3 linked regions of the Homo sapiens genome follow. The protein of the gene in region 3 interacts with the protein of the main gene of each other region in a pairwise test. Each region holds a gene or a part of one and is shown on either strand. Other genes may lie near its edges.

Region 1 (7,000 bases), on a different chromosome or scaffold from region 3:
TCTCTAAAGGACATGTCCTCCTGAATATACCTCCAAAATCTCAACATAAATAGGTGCAAATTGGAACTAATCATCCTCCCCCAAGCCTTGCTCTTCCTGTGCGATCTCAGTAAATGGCACTACATAATTTCCCAAACAAGATATGAGTCATACTAGAGTCCTCCCTCTCCCTCTACATATTCAAATGGTCACCAGACACACCAATTCTCCAAAATAATAAAATAATAAAGGTTCTTTCTATTTTAAGTATGACTAAGTTAAATATGCCCCACCCCTAATTTTTTTCTTAGGCATAAGCAGAGCCCAAAAAAAAGGAAAGAATACCTGCTCTTGTTAGGTTAAGAAGAATAAAAGAAGTGCTATCACTTGGCTGTAGATCTTGCAACAAGCTAGAAGACTCTGAAGTGGACAAAAACTCCGGGGATTTCTGTACAGTCTGAGCTCTCGTCTCCTCTCCGTCTGGACCCACATTCACCCGAAGGCTTCTCAAAACAGCTGAGGAAGGGACCTCCTTGGAGGAGTTAGAATGATTTGTAGTATCATCTAGTAAAGGGAAAATACCACAGCTTTATGTAGCACCTATCTCTAGGAGCCCACCATTTTGATACACAGCACCCAACATCTCTTGGAAGCTAACATCCTTATAGCAACAGACAGCATTCTCATTACACAAATAAAAACTTTGTCTCACAGAAGAACAGAGAGATGGCTTTATGTTCCAAAGGCAGTCAGCCAAAACGTGAGGAACAGAATTCTCTGTCACTTGGCAGTAATGGTTGGTGAATAACCAACCATTCAACATTTGGACATCACAGAATTTAGTCCTTTTTGAGGCCAGAAATCAGTACTTTCTCCTTGAAAAATATAGCTATACAATGAATACTAACTCAAGAATAGGATCTACATTTTATTTTTCCTGGAGAGAGCTCCCTCTCCTTAACTTTTGTATTAGGTTGGTGCAAAAGCTATTGCAGTTTTTGCCATTACCTTTTTACCTATGGTTGTATCTCAGGCTGCGGTTATTTTTTCTGTGCCACCACACCTGGTTAACTTTTGCATTTTTAGTAGAGAGGGTTTCACCAGCCAGGCTGGTCTCAAACTCCTGACCTTAAGTGATCCACCCACCTCGGCCTCCCAAAGTGCTGGGATTATAGGCATGAGCCACCACGCCCGGCCTGTAATATTGTGTTTTATGAGCTGGGAGGCCAAGTATTTGGATTTTCATTTACTTTTATCTATACTTGTATGTCTAAAATACTTTAAATCAAAATTAAAACTAAAAGAAATGTGGAAAAGAAGGTGAATGCATTTTTTTTTAAATGCATTCATTAGTTGATGAACACTAAAGCTGATTCCATATCTTGGTTATTGTGAATAATGCTGCAATTAACATGTAAGTATAGACATCTTTGACTTACTGATTTCAATTCCTTTGGATATATACCTACAAGTGAGATTGCTGGGTCATATAGTGGCTCCATTTTTAGTTTTCTGAGGAACTTCCATACGGTTTCCATAATGGCTGTACTAACTTACATTCCCACCAACAGTGTACAAAGGTTCCCTTTTCTCCATATCCTTACCAACACTTGTTATCTTCCATCTTTAAGATAACAGTCATTCTAAGGGAAGATGAACGCTGTTGTTTTCATTTCCTTAATTATTGTTTGTTTATACATATATTTTTTAAATTTATTACTATTTCTTTTAGACAGGGTGTTGCTCTATCCACCCAGGATGGAGTACAGTGGTGTGATCACAGCTTACTGCAGCCTCAAACTCCTGGGCTCAAGTGATCTTCCCACCTCAGCTGGGACTACAGCTGCACACCACCATGCCCAGCTAATTTTTAATTTTTTGTAGAGACGAGGTCTCGCCATGTTGCCCAGGCTGGTCTCAATCTCCTGGGCTCAAGCTATCCTCCTGCCTCAGCCTCCCAATGTGCTGGGATTACAGGCACGAGCCACCACACCTGGCCTGTCTTCAACTTTTCTAACTGGTTCTTTCCCCTTAGCATAAAGCAACCCTCAAATATCTCAGATCTTAACACAAACAAAAAATTTCCCTCTATCTTACCGCCTTCTCTTTTTCCTTCTCGTACCAGGAGAGACTTTAGAAAGTATGTATTGATAGGCCTGGCGCAGTGGCTCACGCCTGTAATCTCAGCACTTTGGGAGGCCAAGGCGGACTGATCACTGGAGGTCAGGAGTTCAAGACCAGCCTGGCCAACATGGTGAAACCCCGTTTCTACTAAAAATGCAAAAATTAGCCAGGCATAGTGGCACGCACCTGTAATCCCAGCTACTTAGGAGGCTGAGGCAGGAGAATAGCTTGAACCTGGGAGGGGAGGCGGAGGTTGCAGTGAGCCAAGATTGCGTCACTACACTCCAGCCTGGGCGACAGAGTGACACTCCATCTCAAAAAAAAAAAAAAAAGCAAGTATGTATACTCAAGTCACTGCAGCCTGACTTTCCATCCTCTTCTCTCCATGGAACAGGTTCTGCCAAAGTCAATAATGGAGTCCTTTTAGTCCCTATTTCACTGGGCCTGTCAGTAGCATTTGATACAATGATTTCTCCTGGGTTTCATGCCTCCACTCTGCTGATGTTCATCCAACTATTTTAGTCTTTGTTTCTTCCCTCCTTTACAAGTTCTCCTGCCCTACCCTGTACCTTAAATAAAGAGTTCCATAGTTTTGCACTGACCTTTTTTCCCCACTCTCACACTCTCTGGGTGATCATATCCATTCCTATGGCTTAAACTACCAATGCACTAATGATTTCATGGTTGCTTTTTCTCCATGACTCCTAATTTTTACAGTTTCCACCAGTCAGTTATTAAACGATATATTCATTCCACCAGTAACATAGAGTAGGCTAAGCTCTTAAGACTTCTTTATCCTATTTCTAGTGATCTTAATTTTTACCTGGTAACATTAGCCGACTGCATTCTGAGGCTTCAGTCACGGGAAGGAGGGACAAGCAAGTAATATCTTTAGCTTCTGATTCTACAAGCCCCTGTCCCAATGGGATGGACGTATTCTGAACAAACTGTACCAGGAGCTGGGGGGAGAAAAGACAACACTGAGAAATACGAGTTGTTAGAAATGTATCTAAACCTTTGAATTTACCAAAAGATAATATTAAGACTGTTCACTAGTCTCATCCATATTCAAACAAAAACTAAACAACATAATATCTAAAGTTATTTTATCAAGTTCTCTGTTCTAGAGAACAGCTGATTTATATAAAGTCATGTGCTGCAAAACGACATTTCAGTTAACAGACCACATATAGGATGATGGTCCTGTGAGATTGTAATATCCTATTTTTATTGTACTTTTTCCACGTTTAGATATGTTTAGATACACAATGTTTACCACTGTGCTTCAACTGCCTACAGTATTCAGTACAGTAACATGCTGTATAGGTTTGCAGCCTAGGGGCAATAAGGTATACCATACAGCCTAGAGTGTAGCAGGCTAAACCATACAGGTTTGTGTAAGTATACTCTACCATGTTCGCATAATAATGATATCAACTACCATCATATTTCTCAGAATGTATCTCTATCGCTAAGTGACACTTCACTGTAATTAAGTTAACCTCTGCCACCTTCTGTCAAACAGAGAAATGATAAAAATAATTACATTTTAAAATAATGGCTTAAAAAAAATCAACTGCATCATATTGATTACATTTTACAAAACACTTTTCTGTGTACTGGCTCATTTAATTATCGCATTAACCCAGTAAGATTTAAGATGTATTTTTTTTTGAGACAGAGTCTTGCTCTGTTGCCCAGGCTGGAGTGCAGTGGCATGATCTTGGCTCACTGCAAGCTCCACCTCCTGGGTTCACGCCATTCTCCTGCCTCAGCCTCCCAAGTAGCTGGGACTACAGGTGCCCGCCACCACGCCCAGCTAATTTTTTTTGTATTTTTAGTAGAGACAGGGTTTCACCATGTTAGGCAGGATGGTCTTGAACTCCTGACCTCATGATCCACCTGCCTCGGCCTCCCAAAGTGCTGGGATTACAGGCGTGAGCCACCGCACCCAAACTTAAGGCATATTTTACAGCTGAGGAATAAAATTGAAGACATTAAGTGACTTGTCTAAGGTCACAAGACTAGTTAGGAGCAATGCCAATCCTCAAATTTAAGTAATCTGATTCCAAATTCAGTGACCACTCTGCAACACAGATGTGCTAAATTTAAAGTAAGAAAAGTGAACAACAAAAAATGTTTAAATCCCCAATCACATTTAGAAAGAAAATACTTACAGATATATATAAAATAAACAAAAGAATTTGTAGTAGTAAATATTTATATACTTATACACCTATACATCACATGTATCTCATATTTATGTATATATTTATACATAAACATATATTTTTATTTATAAGATTTTATTACATTATCTAAATGTATGATTTCACATATACTGAAAAACAGATATAAAAACAATCACAAAAAATATAATTTTTAAATCTTTGAAAAAATAGTAACAATCAAAACCATATAGCTTAAAAAACCTAAAATATTTATTATCTGGCCCATTAAAGAAAAAGTTTGCTGACCCCCTAAACTGAAGATAAACTTTGAAATATAGCCCACCAAAAGAAAAGGAAACAAGCTGACTGGGCTCACCTCTGGTTTGGATTCTAACTCATCTGATAACATTGATTCAGCTTCCAAAACCTGTAGCTATTCAGGGGACAAGTTCAAATTTAATTCAGAGCCAATGATACCTTCCTGTTATGTTCATATTCCTCTAGGAAATACTATGCTCTTCCCGTAAGATGTTGTACTAGGTGGGTAATCAATGTAACCTAGAATAGGGGTAAAAAAGAGAGAGGGGGCATTAAGAGCAGTGGGAAAACACAGGTACATAAAGACACTTCTTTACATATACAAAAAAAATCACAACAAGCAAGCAAATAAAGAATTCAAACCGAAACACTTCTTTTAAAATACAACAAGCTCAACAGGCATCAAAACCCATAAAAATACTACGCTTTGATGCAGTATTTCAACCTCTAATAATCTAAAAAACTATCTTAAATATGGATAGAGCTATGTCCAAAGATGTCCGTCTTATCCTATGTAATAAACAACTGGAAGCAATGTATACACACACACACACCCCCAATTAGGGAATGGTTGATTAAATATGGCACTGTCACTTCAAAATATGCTGTGAAGGGTTGGGTGTGGTGGCTTACAACTGTAATCCCAGCACTTTGATAGGCTGAAGCAGGTGGATCACTTGAGGTCAATAGTTCGAGACCAGCCTGGCCAACATAGTGAAACCCCCTCTCTACTAAAAATACAAAAATTAGCTGAGCATGGTCGCAGGCACCTGTAATCCCAGCTACTCGGGAGACTGAGGCAGGAGAATCCCTTGAACCCAGGAGGTGGAGGTTGCAGTGAGCCAAGGTCAGACCACTGCACTCCAGCCTGGGCGACAGAGCAAGACTCTATCTCAAAAAACAAACCAACAAACAAATGCTATGAAGACAATGCAACAACAAGTGACTGACATGTTAAATTATAAAAATAAAATACAAAATTATATACTTGCTATTATTAAAACTAGTTATAATAAGCATCAGAAAAAGTAAAAGGAGATTCATACAGCTATGACCGTAGCTATACCGTGTGGTAGGCTGGTGTGACTTAATTTTCTTTTCTCAATTTTCCAATATTTCTAAAAGGCAACCATATTGTTTTGATAATTTTTAAAATTACATTTAAAAAAAAAAAAGTTAAAATTTGAAGAGCGTTTCCCAAAGGTAGTGCTCTCAGGACCCTGATGCGGCTGTTCTCTCTCTTTTATTTATTTATTTAGAGATGGAGTTTTGCTCTTGTTGCCCAGGCTGGAGCACAATGGCACGATCTCAGCTCACCACAACCTCTGCCTCCCAGGTTCAAGCAATTCTGCCTCAGACTCCTGGAGTAGCTGGGATTACAGGCATGAGACACCACACCTGGCTAATTTTGTATTTTTAGTAGAGACGGTTTCTCCATGTTGGTCAGGCTGGTCTCGAACTCCCAACTTCAGGTGATCCGCCTGCCGTGGCCTCCCAAAGTGCTGAGATTACAGGTGTGAGCCACTGCGCCCAGCCACTCCCTATAACTTAAATTCTTACTTTCTTATAGCTTAGTTTCTTTTCAGGATTTTGGAATGTGAGTCCATTTTATTTTGTACAATTGTTACTAAAATTGGGAGCACTATTACAAATAATCATACAGTGTAAAATGTATCCAGGATGGGTATATTTTCAATCAATGGGTACTTTAAAGTTTCCAATTAATACCAGGTAGTGTGGAAAGGTAGAACAAGACAGACTTTACAAAGAGGGCACTTAGGCTGGGCACGGTGGCTCACGCCTGTAAACCCAGCACTTTGGGAGGCCGAGGCGGGTGGGTCACCTGAGGTCAGGAGTTCAAGACCAGCCTGGCCAATATGGCGAAACCCCGTCTCTACTAAAAATACAAAAATTAGCCGGGCATGTGGCGGGTGCCTGTAATCCCAGCTACTCGGGAGGCTGTGGCAGGAGAATCGCTTGAACCCGAGAGATGGAGGTTGCAGTGAGCTGAGACTGCGTCACTGTACTCCAGCCTGGGCGACAGAGCAAGACTCCATCTCAAAAAAAAAAAAAAGTAACTGAATAAATGTTTTTTTGTCCTGTTGGTTTCTCCCTCTCTCTTTCTAAGCTACCTGAAATCCTCATTTTTCATTGTAAAAAAGTAACCATTTAGGCCGGGAGCAGTGGCTCACGCCTGTAATCCCAGCATTTTGGGAGGCCGAGGCAGGCGGAACACAAGGTCAGGAGATTGAGACCATCCTGGCCAACATGGTGCAACTCCGTCTCAACTAAAATACAAAAAATTAGCTAGGTGTGGTGGCATGTGCCTGCAGACCCAGCTACTCAGGAGGCTGAGGTAGGGGAATCGCTTGGACCTAGGAGATGGAGATTGCAGTGAGCCGAGATCG
Region 2 (7,000 bases), on a different chromosome or scaffold from region 3:
TTGTTGGAAGGATAAATTAATAGGGTGGACAGATGAATATTATCCTTTATTGATTATCAACTATATTTAAAACACTGCTAGGCATGTTTTGAATTTACCTAATACACACACCTGCACATATACACACAACAGAGAGACAAATATTTATCACTGAAACTCAGACAGAATTAAGCAACACAATTACTAAATGATTTGGCTTCACATCCCATGCTCTTCACTATACCACATCATTTGTTCAGAAAACATTTCATGAACTCTTACCAAGTGCTAGGTATTGTATTAGGTATCAAAAATACAGTGGGAAATAAACAAAAGCACACGCTCACAATAAAGCATGACAGTGCTGTAAGAGTGAAAGCTTGGGGTGAGATGGGAGCCTATTAGAGGGGCACTTATTCCTAACCTGGGGTTGATAGAGGAAGCAACCTCTTAACTGAGCCTGAGTGAATGAATATGATTTAGCAAAAGAAGCATAAATCCCACAGGAGGATTTAGGCATTGCAAGTGGCCAAAGGTAAAAAAGCTCTGTAAGAGCTGAGAAGCTGGAAGAAGGATGAAGAGGGAATAGAAAGGTAAGTAGGAACCAGAGCATATACTGCTTCTTAACTGGTGTTGAGCTTTAGCCTATAAGCAATTGGTAGTCACTGGGAGGGCATAAGCAGAAGAGAAATGTGCTGAAATCTGTATGGTGGGGAGGGAATGAAGATTGGAGGCAGAGGATCAGTTTAGAAGCCTCACAAGTGAGAAACTATGAGGACTTGCACTAAAGAAATGCAAGCAGAGATCATGAGAAGAGAATAGGGATATTTAGGGGGCAGAACTGATGAGATGTTACTTCCATGAAGGGTGAAGGAAGAAACGGAAATTAAGAATGACTCAATTTTTCAACCTTATTCCAAAGACCACATTTAAAACACCTATACAGCTTCTCTAGGTACTTGCATGATAACATTTCACTTTTTTTCTGTAAAGTAGGGAGCAACGTCATCTACTGAAACTGAGATGGGAGGCAGGAAGAAGAGATCTAGTGAAGATCTAAACTAGCCACTCTGTAGAATGAGGAATTGCTGAACAGAGAAACACAGGCCTCCAGGAAAGTTGAGGGCCCAAATGGGGGAGAAGGTCTTGATCTGGCAGCCCTCATCTGTGCAGATGGAAGATTATCTCCAGCAGCACTCAATAGCCAGGGTAAAGATGCAGAGAAGATGAACACTGAGACTGGACCATATCAAAGTTTTCCAGGAGAGGCAGAAAAGACAAGACATTAGGGCAGTGGAGTTTAGAATATAAGAGAGTGGCAGAAGCAATGAAATATAGCCTCTAAGAGGAGTTTAGAACATAAGAGAGTGGCAGAAGCAATGAAATAATGAAATATAGCCTCTAAGAGGAGTTTAGAACATACGAGAGTGGCAGAAGCAACGAAATAATGAAATATAGCCTCTAAGCTGGATATAGAAGTGAAGGGAGGGTGTGCTAATAAAAAGAAAGCAGACTAGGAACTAGGGTCAGGGAACTAGAGGGCTCTCATGATAGCATTTCCCAAAATGTGTTTCTCAGATGCTTATTACACAGGATGTTAATCACTGATACGTTCCTCATTAAAAGCTTTTCATGGTCAAATAAGTGAAGGAAAGTTTGGGTAATGTAATTTTTAAACTGTTTCCTTCCTGTACTATTTGTATTTAATAAGTTAATAATATATACTGTAGTTCTCTAATAATTTATCTCTAGGATAAATATGCATTTCCCAAATAATTCTGATTACTGTATATTATTTATCTATATTTATCAGAGAATTTCACTGAATGGGTATCTTAAGGAACACATTTTCAGAGGGTCTGCTCTGTGAAATGAGAAGCAGGGATGGTAGAACACTTGAAAAGAAAGTATCTTACCAAGGCAGGAGGTTTACCTGAAAGTTCTCTTAGCTTCCAGAGCTATGTATCTTTAATTCTACTATAACACACACACACACACACACACACACACACACACACACACACACACAGCTTGACTCTGACTCTACTGTAATTAGTATTCATTCATGAAACCAATATTCCAAGAGCATGTACTATTATGTGGCAGAGGAGATTTATACAGCATTCTTACCAGGACAAACTTCGTGACTTATCTGGAGAAACAACAGATACACACATGAAAAATAAAAACCTGGCTGGAAAATATGGCTCTTCCTCAGATACCCATAAGACATAGTTTCCCTCCAGGGCAACTAGTGCTACCAATCTAGCCACAGCTCTGTAAGATCAGAAAGTTCCTCCATAAAAACAGAGCTAACTGAGTAGATCTGAGCTGAACAAACTAAAAAGCCCCAGTCTTTCTTTGCTGAAGCTACTACTCTCCCAGAGTCACCCATGATGAAATAATCTCTCCTACCCCATCAGTTTGATGACATAGATTCTTGACCTGGTCCTAATCTACTCCAGGATAATAAATCCTAAATTGATTTTCTTGAATGACAACCAACCTGCTTTTACCCAGTGTCAAGCATTCAGAATTCCAACTGGCACAGACTAGTATGGATAAAACATAATCCATAAGGAAGAAGTAGAGATCCACATGTAAATAATGGCTAGTGCCAGACTGTGAAGGATCTTGGTGACACAGCTGAAGCCTGGACATTCCATGGGGAATGAGGAGGCCTTAGGGATATCTGAATAGGAAGACTGGGAGCGGGAGGGTAAAAGTAATGCCATCATTGCTAAAAACAGGTTTAGAAAGTTATTCTTGGGACATGCCCATAGGGTCCACGTCCATTTTTTAAAAGGCAGATCAAATTTTAAAATACTTTTTGTCATTTTTCTCCACTTCCCTTCAAAGGGTCTGTGGGTAATTTTCCTTTCTAGAGGTAAGGAAAATAGGCCCATAATTTCTAGCTTCATGGTTAAAGGTATAAAAGAGTAAGTGTAAACATAATTTAAACTGACAAGGATGTTAAATCAGGCAACTCACTTGAAACTCCAATGGAAAAAGAGATGAAATTCTAAATCTTCAGTACACATTGTAGAGATTTTAGAAAACCAAAAATAATATACTGCTATCATCTTATTAGGGAACAAAAATGCTAAAGACACATTAGCAAATGTGGCTTTGACTGATGTGACATAAGCTGAGACCTCATACCAACTAATTTAAGAAGTTTTAAAGATTTAGATCACGAGAAAAACAAAACTACAATAATTATATGGTTTCAGAAAAAGTAAGTCTTCCCTCAATAACTTCTTCACATACTTTACTACTGCTATACTACAATATGACAATCCCTAGGGGTTATACTAACATCACTTGATTAGAATTTTGGAAACACTGAAGTCTCACATTACAGAATGATGTCTAACTTGTAAAAACAAAAAACACAGAAAGTTGGCTCATGGGATTTAAAATTTGCTGAGGTCCATAAAACAACTGCAGCTATAAAAACCACTTATCTGTTCAACTTCAAAATTGGTTTTCACTAAAATCTCTGTGACAAAAAGTCATACCTATACAATCAGTTATAACAAAATTATAACATGTATTGATTTTTGTGGATGTCAAATCTAAAAGTCACTATACAAAATGTCAGAAATCTGTGGTATAAAGTATGATGTCGGAAACATCATCATTAGTCTCTCTTCCTTGAAATATAATACACTGCAATCTAAATGAATTAGATTCTATAAAGACTCATTTTTCTTAACTATTATATATATGCTGATGTTCAACTATATGACTGCATGAAAAGTTGTTCATATAGTTTCATAAGGAGCTCAGTAACTCCCTAAAGACACAAAAAAGCACTCAATGATCTAATTGATCTGTTAAGAATCATAAAATTTGAGTTAAAAATTATATCAGCTTATGGAAAATTGATATTACATGTTGATGAAAAATGTGTTAACTGTTTTACCACAGAGTCTTTGTGATCCACTTGTACCCCAACACTAGCTGGTTCTGGAGGCCATAAGACCATCCTCTGCAGTGGAGTGAGGCACGTTATGGATGCAGAAAACTTACTCTAGTCAGATGCCCAGCTAGGAATTTCAGGAAATCCAAGATGTAGGCTGCTTTCCAGGAAAAAGGCACAGAAGACCCACCAATGGCAGGAGATAGAAAATTCATACTCCACCCCCAGGATTATGGCAATATAGCAATCTATTACATTTTGTGCTTCATGATCCTCTCTATCCAAAGTACATATGCAACCATAGTGGGCTACACAGAACTAGGGAATGTGAAGAAAGCAGCAGTACTGAGCCACGTGACTTGAAGTTATGGGTCAGACCTCATGGCGGAGTAGCAAAAAGAAAAGGGTGGGCAAAAAGGAAATGGAAGTATCTGAGAGAAAATTCTGGTATCCATTTTGCAGTACCAGCAAATCACTTGAATATTTACAATTTTCTAGGTTCTACAATGCTAGAAGTCATGTAATTCTGCTGTTCTGCCATGGAGAGGCAATACTCTTCAGTGGAAAGCAGCCTAGTGCTTGCTTAGACTTTGACACTAACCACACAGGACTAGGGTAGGAGCATGACAGGAAGAAAAAGGTCAGTTGGTGCTAAGAGAAAATTCATTTTTGCCTATAACTGTGAAATCACAATGACCTACGATGTTAACTGCAGTATCTTAAAAAACTGTTTTTAAAAAAGAGAAGTGCTAGTCTGTGAAAGCATTCCTATTGTCATCACTTTGTAAGCAACAGAGGTCAGAGAGAATGTTTGATCATCATTTTAGCCACTGCAGCACCCCCAGCACTGTGCCTCACATATGATAAGCAGCAGTAAATATTCATGCAACTGAATCTTCTGTATGAGCATCCCTGTCTCTTAATCCTTCTTTCTAGTGCTTCTTATTTTCCCACCTTATTTCTTCCCATAGCTCGCACTGCTCTTTGTGGTTTAACTGATAATTTGGACAACATAAAATAATAGTCTGTTGAATTTACTGGAAGATAATTTTAGGTTCACTTTTTTAATTGGGAAAGTAAATGTTAGGAACACTATCTTTTTCTCTCTAAAATACTTTGCAAATTAAGCCGTGGGTTAGCAACCTTCAACAGAAAAAAGTTCCATAACTCTAAGTTGAAGATGTGTTGTTTTCTGCTATATTAAAATACAATTTTAAAAAGGTGACTTGTGCCATACTCTTTTTTACTGTTACATAAATCTAAGAAACAAAATTTTCCACAGTTGGCTATAAAAAGTAACACAGAACTAGCCTGGTTCCTATAAAAGTATCCTTTCGAATTAGAAAACTAATATTTAATGTAAAAAAGCCACATACTTTTCATAGTTCCATCTTCTTCTTCCTCATCCTCACTGTTTATCACCATGGTCCCCAAGTCGGATTCCAACATCGTGCTATTATGTTCAATCATGGTCTGGGCCCCTTCACTCATCGTGCTTGTGGCCCGCATGGTGCCCACACTCTCCACACTAGTCTTCACCATGGTGTGGGAATCCAGCTCATCTTCATCCTGCAAGCAAAATACTGCAATGAGGGAAGACTTTTCTATGACAGCTGGATTTCTTAATTCTTAACAAGAGAATGAATATATTATAGTTTTAATACTTATTAAAAATACTATTAGTACTGATTTTAATATAAATACATACATACAAATGTTATTTTAAGAGTGAAAATTATTCAAAATAACCTAAAGCTTTAGGTAATTACAGATCAAGCAACAGAAACTGATGAAGTAGAAGGCTGCTAGTTGCTTTTAAAATAAGGATTAAGATAGGTAAACTATCAGCAAATGCATAACAAAGAATATGGTGACAAAACAACTAAATATATATGAGAGCACCTTTAAGACAGAACACATTGACACTTTGTATTATAATGGGCATAATGATGTCTATAACCTTGTAAAACAGCCATTAGCTTTTTCTTTTAAATTATGGCAAAATATACAAATACATATATATAAAATTCACCATTTTAGCAATTTTTAAGTGTATAACTCTGTAGCACTAAGTATATTTACAATGTTGTGCAACCACCACCATTATATGTTTACAGAACTCTTCATTCCCCCTTTCCCCAGCCCTGGCAACCTCTATTGTACTTACAAGAGGTATCTAGAATAGGCAAATTCATGAGTACTACTATTCATACCATAGTACTAATTCATAATTACTATTATACTTATGAATTTGCCTATTCTAGATACCTCATGTAAGTGGAATCATACAATATATTTTGCTGAGCCTAATGCATTCAAGATTCATGCATATTGTGGTAGAAAAATTTCATTCCTTTTTAAGGCTGAATGATATTCCATTGTATGAATACACCACATTTTGTTTCCCTATTTATCTGTTGATGGCCATTTGGATTGTTGACACCTTTGGCTACTGTGAATAGTGCTAATGTGAACACTGACCTACAAGTATCTGTTTGAATCCCTATTTTCAGTTTGGTTGGGTATCTACCTAGAAGTACAATTGCTGGATCACATGGTAACTTCATATTTAATTTTTTAAGTGCCCAAACTGTTTTCCACAGTGGCTATACCATTTTACACTCCCACCAGCAATGCACAGGATTCCAACTTCTCCACATCCTTGGCAACACTTGTTATTTTCCATTTTTAAAAAATAATAGCCATCCTAATGAACATGAAGTGTTATCACATTGTAGTTTGATCTGCATCTCCCTAATGACTACTGATGTTGAGCAATCTTTTCGCACGCTTATTAGCCATTTGTATATCTTCTTTGGAGAAATATCCATTTACCCATTTTAAAATGGGTTGTTTGGTTTTTCTGTTGTTATTACAAATTCTGGATATTAATTCCTTACCAGAGATATAATTTGCAAATATTTTCTCCCATTCTGTGTGCTTTTTACTTCATTTATAGCGTCTTTTGATGTAAGTTTTTAATTTTGATGAAGTCTGATTTATCAATTTTTTGCTTTTGTTGACAAATCTCAGCTTTTAAATGTTTCACAGAAGAATCAAGTCAGTAATAAAAGTACAAATTAAAAGTGCTCTTTA
Region 3 (8,487 bases):
TTATCTGCCAGTTTCTTTGCCTGCTCACCTGGACTTTAGCTGTACAATCTGAAAGTAATCGTGACTTGTTGAAATATTACCCCCATGGCTGGCAAATCCTTTAACATGATTGGCAATGTCACTGTATGTGTGTGTCTAGCATGAGACATATATAGCTGTGCTTGAAGCTACCGGAGCTTATATTCTGATTGCTTGGTTTGTAGCTGCTAATTCGCTAATTCTTTTTTTTTTTTTGAGACGGAGTCTCGTTCTGTCACCCAGGCTGGAGGTGCAGTGGCGCAATCTTGGCTCACTGCAAGCTCCACCTCCCGGGTTCACGCCATTCTCCTGCCTCAGCCTCCCGAGTAGCTGGGACTTACAGGCGCCCGCCACCACGTCTGGCTAATTTTTTTGTGTTTTTAGTAGAGACGGGATTTCACTGTGTTAGCTAGGATGGTCTCGATCTCCTGACCTTGTGATCCGCCCGCCTCAGCCTCCCAAAGTGCTGGGATTGCAGGTGTGAGCCACCGCGCCTGGCCTCGCTAATTCTTAATTAATCTGTAGAGAGATTTGCTTTTAGAACTCTTGTTTTTATGTTCTTTGGATGGTATATACATTTTTTTTTAAATTTGTTTTTTGTTTGTTTGTTTGAGACGGAGTCTTGCTCTGTTGCCCAGGCTGGTGTGCAGTGGCACAATCTCGGCTCACTGCAACCTCCGCCTCCTGGGTTCCAGTGATTCTCCTGCCTCAGCCTCCCAAGTAGCTACAATTACAAGTGCCCACCACCATGCCCAGCTAACTTTTGTATTTTTAGTAGAGACAGAGTTTCACCATGTTGGTGGCCAGGCTGGTCTCAAACTCCTGACCCCAGGCAATCTGCCTGTCTCGGCCTCCCAAAGTGCTGGGATTACAGGTATGAGCCACCACGCCTGGCCTTGGTTTTTGAGACAGCGTCTTACTCTGTCACCTAGGCTGGAGTACCATGGCATGATCATAGCTCATTGTAACCTTGAACTCCTGGGCTCAAGTGATGCTCTTGCCTCAGCCTCCTAAGTAGCTAGGACTATAGGCGGGCCCCATTATGCCTGGCTAGTTAGAAAAAAAAATTTTTTTTTTTTGGAGACCAGGGTCCTGCTATGTTGCCCTGGCTGGTCTCGAACTCCAGGCCTCAAGTGATCCTCCTGCCTCAGCCTTTAAGTGTTGGGATTACAGGTGCGAGCCACTATGCCTGGCCTATTTTTATTGTTTTTAAAGGAGTAGTGGACCCTTTTTTAGGTTTCTTATCTTGCCTTTTTTTTTTCATTTAAAAAAAATTTTATTTATTTTTTGAGACAGAGTTTCACTCTTGTTGCCCAGGCAGGAGCGCAATGGCACGATCTCGGCTCACTCCAACCTCCACCTCCCAGGTTTGAGTGATTCTCCTGCCTCGGCCTCCCAAGTAGCTGGGATTACAGGTGCCCGCCACCACGCCCGGCTGATTTTTTGTATTTTTAGTAGAGACAGGGTTTTGCCATGTTGGCCAGGCTGGTCTCAAACTGCTGGCCTCAGGTGACCCGCCCACCTCGGCCTCCCAAAGTATTGGGATTACAGGCATGAGCCACCATGCCTGGCTCTTACCTTGTTTTCTAAAAGGAAGAGCAGAGCTAACTATAAGCATATTTTGGGACTAATATCTATTAAAATTTATTCTTGAAAATAATTTCCTTCTTAATCAAGGCACAGTTTATATTTGAACAGAAACAGAATAGATTTTATTCCACTGTGGGCTACTGGTATTAAATAATAAGATGAGCCGACTGGCGACTTAGAGGCTGGGGTAACTTGGATGGTTACCTTGATCTGGAGGAGGGGATCACAATGGGGAAGTGGTCTCAGGAATGGCTGAATACTCTGTAACATGCTGCTTGTTTCTTTACCCAGTCTACGCCTGCAAGCTCTCAGACCGGGAACATCCACTCTACCTGCGTTTGGTAGCAGGGCCCAGAACAGACACACTTAGTTTTGTTCTTCGTGAACATGAAATTGGAGAGGTAAGTTATTGTTCACTATTGCTTTAAACTATACAGAACAGCTGGCCCTATTTTATTGCAGTAGCCTAGTGACTTGGCTATTGATGGGGGATGGGAAGAGAAGAGAGTTGGAGGGCAGGGGGATGGGAAGAGAAGAGAGTTGGAGGGCAGGGAGAGGGAGAGGGATTTTGAATTGTCAGAAATGAACCCAAAGTTAGCCTATGATGTCATTCTCTCACAACCTTATATTATTAGTCTGTCATTTTCAGAGGTGGGAGAAAATAAAGTTTTTTTACTTGATCTCCATCCAGAGAGTCATTTTCACCCCTTCCCACCTCCAAAATACTCCAGTCCAGCTGAACTTTGAAAGTTGACACTCACCATGTGTTTGCTACTAACAAAAGTCTCCAGGCTAATTCCCTTCTAAAGGGATATAAAAGGAAATTCGATCTCTTTACCATGGAAGGCATTTAGCTTTCTAGCATCTTTTTTTTCCCCCTTGCCCAGTCAACTGATTAAGAAATTATGTTTCCATGTGCATCATTTGCCATGTTGTCTCCAGGGAGGATTGTATTTAGCCAGTTCAGTAGAAGAAAAAAAGCACTTGAGCCTGCCCTCTAGATCAAGTGTCAGCTTTAAATGACACTTGAGCAAATCCCAAGCTCCTGTCCCAGTCTTCTGTCTGGAACAGGAAATGGTGTGAAATGTCCTACATGGTGCAATTGAGAATAGGGTTTCTAGGTTAAAAGTTAGGAAACGGCTCTGTTTCCTACTGTTTGTTAGATTAGTAGCATGACCTTGGATAAGTCTTCTAATCTTTTAGCCCTCAGTTTTAAAATCTGTTAAGTGGGACTAAACACTTTACAAGGTGGGCTTTGAGTCACAATTAGAAATGTATACATGTAAGTGAAGGGAGTTTTAGGAAGACAGTGGTTTTACATGTTTTTGAAGTTTCTTTTGATTCTGGTGTTTTGAAGCTTTTCAAGACATTCAGACTCATTTTGGGGAGAAGGCAGGGTGCAGAAATCTGACTTGGCTTTGCAGATGGTGACCATTCCCTCTGCCAGCTTAAGCCAGACACATTAGCATAGTCTACTCAGTGTTTTATTTTTCTTGTACTTAGTGTTTTAAGTAGCAACTAGAACTACATTGGGCAAGAATTTTATTAACTTGGTTATTTTATTGTATTTTAATTATAATTAGAGATAGGGTCTCACTACGTTGCCCAAGCTGGTCTCAAACTCCTGGGCTCAAGCAATCCTCCCACCTCAGCCTCCCAAAGTGCTGGGATTACAGGCATGAGCCACTGCACCTGGCCTTAACTTAGTTTTGAAATTGACTTGACATTGGGTTTTATTGTTCCAGACTGCTGTACTGGACCTCTGTATGGTGTTCTTATTTCTCAGTTATTTAAGGAAAACTGAACTGAGGAAGAAATTTCCATAGCTGTTAGGGGGTGGGAGGGATATTTATATGATGTCTTTATTTTGGAGACTTCAACATAGGTGAAAGATAATCTGTTAAAATTTTAAAAATTAACAGAATATTCTAACGTAGAAGTTTTGCTCTCCTACTCCATGTTGCTCTTTTTTTTTTTTTTTTTTTTAAATAACCAGCCTAAACTGTTCTCCAGGAATTCTTCTACCACTGAGCCCATTTGGTGGATTTACTTATTTTTCACTCTTTGTTTGTATTTGGTTATCTTGAATCTTTTCTCTACACCATCAGACAGCAGTTCTCCACCAGGATCCAGGGCCCCCTTTGGGAGAGGAGGATGTGTTTGGAAAAAACCTCGTAGATGATGCTAGATACCCTCCTTGACATTCACTGCTTCTATTTTTTAAAATCTGTTTTAATTTTTTTTTTTTTCTTTTTAAAGAGACTAGGTCTTGCACTGTCACCCAGGCTGGAGTACAGTGGCGCAATCATGGCTCACTGCAGCCTCAATCTCCCGGGCTCAAGCAATCCTCCTACCTCAGCCTCCCAAGTAACTGGGACTACAGGAATGTACTGCCACAGCCAGATAATTTTTAAATTTTTTGTAGCGACCTGGTGTCACTATTTTGCCCAGGCTGGTCTCGAACTTCTGGTCTTGAACTTCTGGGCTCAAATGATCCTCCTGCCTAAGCATTCCAAAGTGCTAGGATTATAGGCATGAGCCACAATGCCCAGCCTAAAAACTTATTTTGTGCCTGCTAAATAAGTACTAGGAGCTGTTAGGGAAACAAGGCTCAGAGCCTCAAGGCAAGAGATAAACTCCAAATAGCGAGAAGTACGGCAGCTGTGGTGTAGGTAAGGTGCAGGTGAGATAGATATTAAGCAAATAATTGTAATTTAAAAATCTTGGTTGTGATCAGGGGCTCTGTGAAGGCTTTTGATACACTTAGCCTTGGGTGGGAAGAGAGGAGAGGAAGTTGTGGAAAGCTGCTTAGAGAAAGTGGCATTTAAGCTGAGATGGGGAGGATGAGTAGTTCATAGCCAGGCAAAGTGGAGGAGGGGAGAATGCGTGCCACTTGGGCAGAGAGTGAAGCTCGGTGAGAGAGAGATGGGGCCGGAGAGTTTAGAGTCTTTCAGACAGCATCAGCAACTAAGGGAAGCCATTGGATGGTTCTAAGCAGGGGAGAGTCTTGGCCAGATGAGCATTTTACAAAGGATGTTCTGTTTGGGGAACAGATGGGGGAGCATAAGAGCCGAGTGAGGAGGCCAGGTAGGAAGCTGTTCCAGCGATGCAGGAATAGATGATAGTAGCTAGCACCAAGGGGCCGTACCGAGGGAGAAAAGGCTGAATGGAGAACTGTTTGGGGGTGATAAGACTGATTATGCGAGGTAAGAAAGTCAGTTACAATGAGGACTCGAGGTTAAGATGAAAGGACTGTCGAATTGTTTTTAATGCTGTTGGGGGTCAAATCAGGTAAGGAATGAAAGTGTCCAATAGACTTAGGGATATGGAGGTCTCTGGCTTTTAGGGAGATCGTCTTGAACAGTGGGAGGAGAGGGTAGGAAGGTGATTGGTGTGAGCTGAGGTGGGAGTGGGAGTGGAGGGAGCCCTTAGGCTGGCAACACCCCAGCTCTTGCAGACCACACCTTCTGCGGCATGGGGCTGGGAGGGGAGGGCAGCCGCACCTCTGGGAGCTCCTGGTCAGCATTCCTAAGTCTAACTGAGTATTAAACATCTGGCATTTTTCTTTCTGTGTTTCCTGACAGTGGGAAGCCTTCAGCCTTCCAGAACTACAGAATTTCTTGCGCATCTTGGACAAGGAAGAAGATGAACAGCTGCAGAACCTGAAGAGGCGCTACACAGCCTACAGGCAGAAGCTGGAAGAAGCCCTCCGTGAGGTGTGGAAGCCTGATTAAAGCGGGGCTCCCTGCCCGTGAGGCCCGGTGCAGGACCGATGTACAAAACAGCAGCAAGTGCCTCTCTTCTCAGAGGGCTGCTGTCTTGCCCCACTATGCTAGGGTCTTCGCCTTTCTATCTGTAGATTTTGTTCCCCAAACCTGGTCACACAGCATCCTGCACCTTAGCGTCCCATGTAAGGGACTCTGCAAGCTTGTTGTTCAGCACCGCAGTGTTACCTCTTGGCAAGCTGTGAACCTGTCGCCTCATCAGGAGCATTCGAGGGTGCTTGGAAGCATGAACTCTGGGGGTGTTTTTTTTTTTGGTTATTTTAATTATGTGATGATGCTGTTAAGCTTACAGATATGCAGTTGATTTTTTAAAAAGCTTAACTAGGAATCTTTCTGAATACTTGTCCTATTTTGAAACTACCTGTCTGGTTTTTTGTTTGGTTTTGTTTTCTTTTTTTAATGTCAGAGGAATCTATCCATGTGAATCGAAAGGCACAGGAATCTAGGAACTCTGAGGAATTTATTGTGAAGGATTTTGTTAGGGGGTTGACAGAGAAAGCAAAGTGTAAGTTTGGAAGAAGGCATGTGCGGTGGTGGCGAGTGCTGCGGGCTATGGAAGGTGACTTGGCTTTTCAGTTAGGGGTAGTGGAGAAAGGGGTAGTTGCTTGTAAACGAGTTAAAAGCATTCAGTGTGGAGGTGTTAAACCCATTTTAGGATCGCTTGGTTTCCTGGTGGGTAGAATATGGGAACAGAGCCAGAGGCAGGAGCTAAACCAAAAGGAGGGACCCATGAACTCTGCAGCTGACCAATCAGAGAATCAGGCAGGTGTAGCCTACTGACCTGGGCAGAGGTGGGCCTCACGCAGCTGGATCCGACCCTTTAATTCTGCCCTTTTGGAGTGGAAGGTCTGATTGGTGTAGCTGCTCTGCATAGGCAGGACAGTGACAGTTCACTAACTCTTGTTAAGTTACATAGTGTATAGCTTTCCCCCCACAGGTGGTTTTCAAAGTTGAGACGGAATTTGGGTAGGGGCAGCTGTTTTTCCCTTGATTGTTAGCTAGGATATTTGTCAAGTAAACTTTGGTGACAATCACTCTCTTCCCTTTTATTCCTCCTTTCCTTTTCCTTTCTTCCCTTTTTTCTTTCCTTCCCTGCTGTCTCCCACCCTACCTTGTTCTTTTCCTCCCTCCCTCCCTCCCTCCCTCCCTCCCTCCCTCCTTCCCTCCCTCTCTCTCCCTCTCCCTTTCTTTTCTACATTGAAATCTGTTCTTACATAATAGAGAACAGGGCTATTGAATAAAGACCCAATCCTACCAGATCTTTAGTTCTAAAGGGCAACTTGACTGTGAGTAGGAGGGCCCCCAAGAAAGGGAGGAAAGTCCACACCCAGCTAACCACACAACAGGGCTTCATTATGGAAATATTTTAACAAAAGTACATGTTATTACCAACCAAAGAGATGCATGTGCAATAGAAGCCTTCCTTAAAAACAGGCTAAATAACCTCATTTTATGCAGCAGTTTAATCTGAGAACAGAGGGAAAGGTGTGCAGTGGTTCCAGAGGGGCCTTATATTCTATTTTTAGTCTAGATATTTTTTGTTTATAAATTCCCAAGGAATTGTTAACACTTTGGTGACACCTAATGGATTCTTTTTGAAATTCCAAGGTGCTTCAGTTCTTTGCCCAAGTGAACTGTGCCTTTTATTGCATTTCTGTTCGTCTCTTGGTGGCTCTTCTGACTTTTTGGAGAATACCCATCTTGTTGGAGGCAGACTTAAGTTGTTATGCTGTGCCACACAATTTACTGAGACAATCATATCTTCCTAAGCATTTAAGGAAAGTTGAAAAAAATAGAATTAGCTATAAAATATGTATGGCACATCTTGTTTAATTTTGCATGTAACTTCTCTTTTGTACATTGATGAGGTTTTAGTGACATTGTCATCCAACACTTTACCTTTATTGTTCAGGGAATGCCTTCGTGATTTTTTGTACTGGTTTTATTATTCAGACTATGGCCTGGATTTGAGTATATTGTTATTACCACCTGGTTTTTTAATTATTCATCCCAGTAAACTTATATTTTGTGAAGCATTTGTTTCTCAGATTAAGACACTGTTAGAACCTAAAGTAGTAGCTGATGGGTATCTGTGAATTTTTTTTTTTTTTTTTTTTTTACTTGAAGTAGATTGTCTGAATAGGCATCCTCATCTATATTTACCCAAAACCTCGCTTACTGTCATGTGCACTACAAATTGCAATTTGGAAACCTACTGTATTGAAATTCTGTCAGTTTATGGTTCTTGAAGACTGATGTCCTTTCCCAAACACTGGTTACTGCAGCAGCATTTTTAATGTGTAAGTGAAGAAAAAAGGCCACTAAGGCCAAAGATTTTTTAAGAATCATTGTACAAATCATTATGTTAAACTATCTAAGCTTTGCTGTAATACTGTTTTCTCTTCAATATGTGATGGTACAGGAAGGATGTTAAATGAAGGGGTGGTATTGCAGGAGAGCATTTTAAATGGCAGAAGTAAAAAGTTATAATATTTATAATTTTGATGGGTTTAAGTTTATTTTTGTAGGGAAGATTTTTCTCCCCTAAAATAGTTTCTAGAATGGCAAAATTGTTTCCATTATTAAAAATTGAAGTTATTAGTTGTTTATGTGTGTTTATTTATGATAATATGCTAGATTTAAAAAGGTCACAGGAGTGCGCTGAGCTGCTTTTGCACATATACACAGGGACACATGCTGGAATGCAACAACTTTACTAGGTTCGCGTGGGTCATATTTGTTCTCCCAGATATCATTTTCTCTTTGCCTTATCCTCTGAGGAAAAATAACCCTAAGCTCACACAGCATATTCCAATGTATTTAAAACAATTGTTTTAATTTTTGAAATATACACATTTAAAAGTATATAAAGCATGCAAAAGAGGAGGGAGGCCGAGAGTGAAAAAATAAAAATAAAAAAGCATGCGAACAGTTTAAAGGATTATTATATAAAATGGACACCCCCTGACCATTACTAAAATAGAACCTTGTCAGTTCTTTAGAAATCTCTCCCTCCACCCCTGTTCTTGCCCTGAGGTCTCCTACCCCTGAAACATACCACTTCAACATAAAGTGAGTATTTGTATTTTTTTGG

The links.
Region 1: the proteins of RASSF3 (region 3) and ZNF410 interact in binary tests that used the Homo sapiens proteins (3 or more experiments, as listed by UniProt).
Region 2: the proteins of RASSF3 (region 3) and STK3 interact in binary tests that used the Homo sapiens proteins (3 or more experiments, as listed by UniProt).

The regions. Positions count from the first base shown.
Region 1 is NC_000014.9:73,889,859-73,896,858, reverse strand, and holds part of ZNF410 (zinc finger protein 410), read right to left. Parts: intron 4,833-7,000; 5' UTR 4,684-4,832; coding exon 4,651-4,683; intron 3,063-4,650; coding exon 2,927-3,062; intron 2,501-2,926; coding exon of another isoform or gene 2,450-2,500; intron 544-2,449; coding exon 325-543; intron 1-324. UniProt on the Homo sapiens protein: Transcription factor that binds to the sequence motif 5'-CATCCCATAATA-3', and is specifically required to silence expression of fetal hemoglobin in adult erythroid cells.
Region 2 is NC_000008.11:98,542,689-98,549,688, forward strand, and holds part of STK3 (serine/threonine-protein kinase 3), read right to left. Parts: intron 5,474-7,000; coding exon 5,281-5,473; intron 1-5,280. UniProt on the Homo sapiens protein: Stress-activated, pro-apoptotic kinase which, following caspase-cleavage, enters the nucleus and induces chromatin condensation followed by internucleosomal DNA fragmentation.
Region 3 is NC_000012.12:64,689,571-64,698,057, forward strand, and holds the end of RASSF3 (ras association domain-containing protein 3), read left to right. Parts: intron 1-1,899; coding exon 1,900-2,009; intron 2,010-5,192; coding exon 5,193-5,342; 3' UTR 5,343-7,994; downstream 7,995-8,487.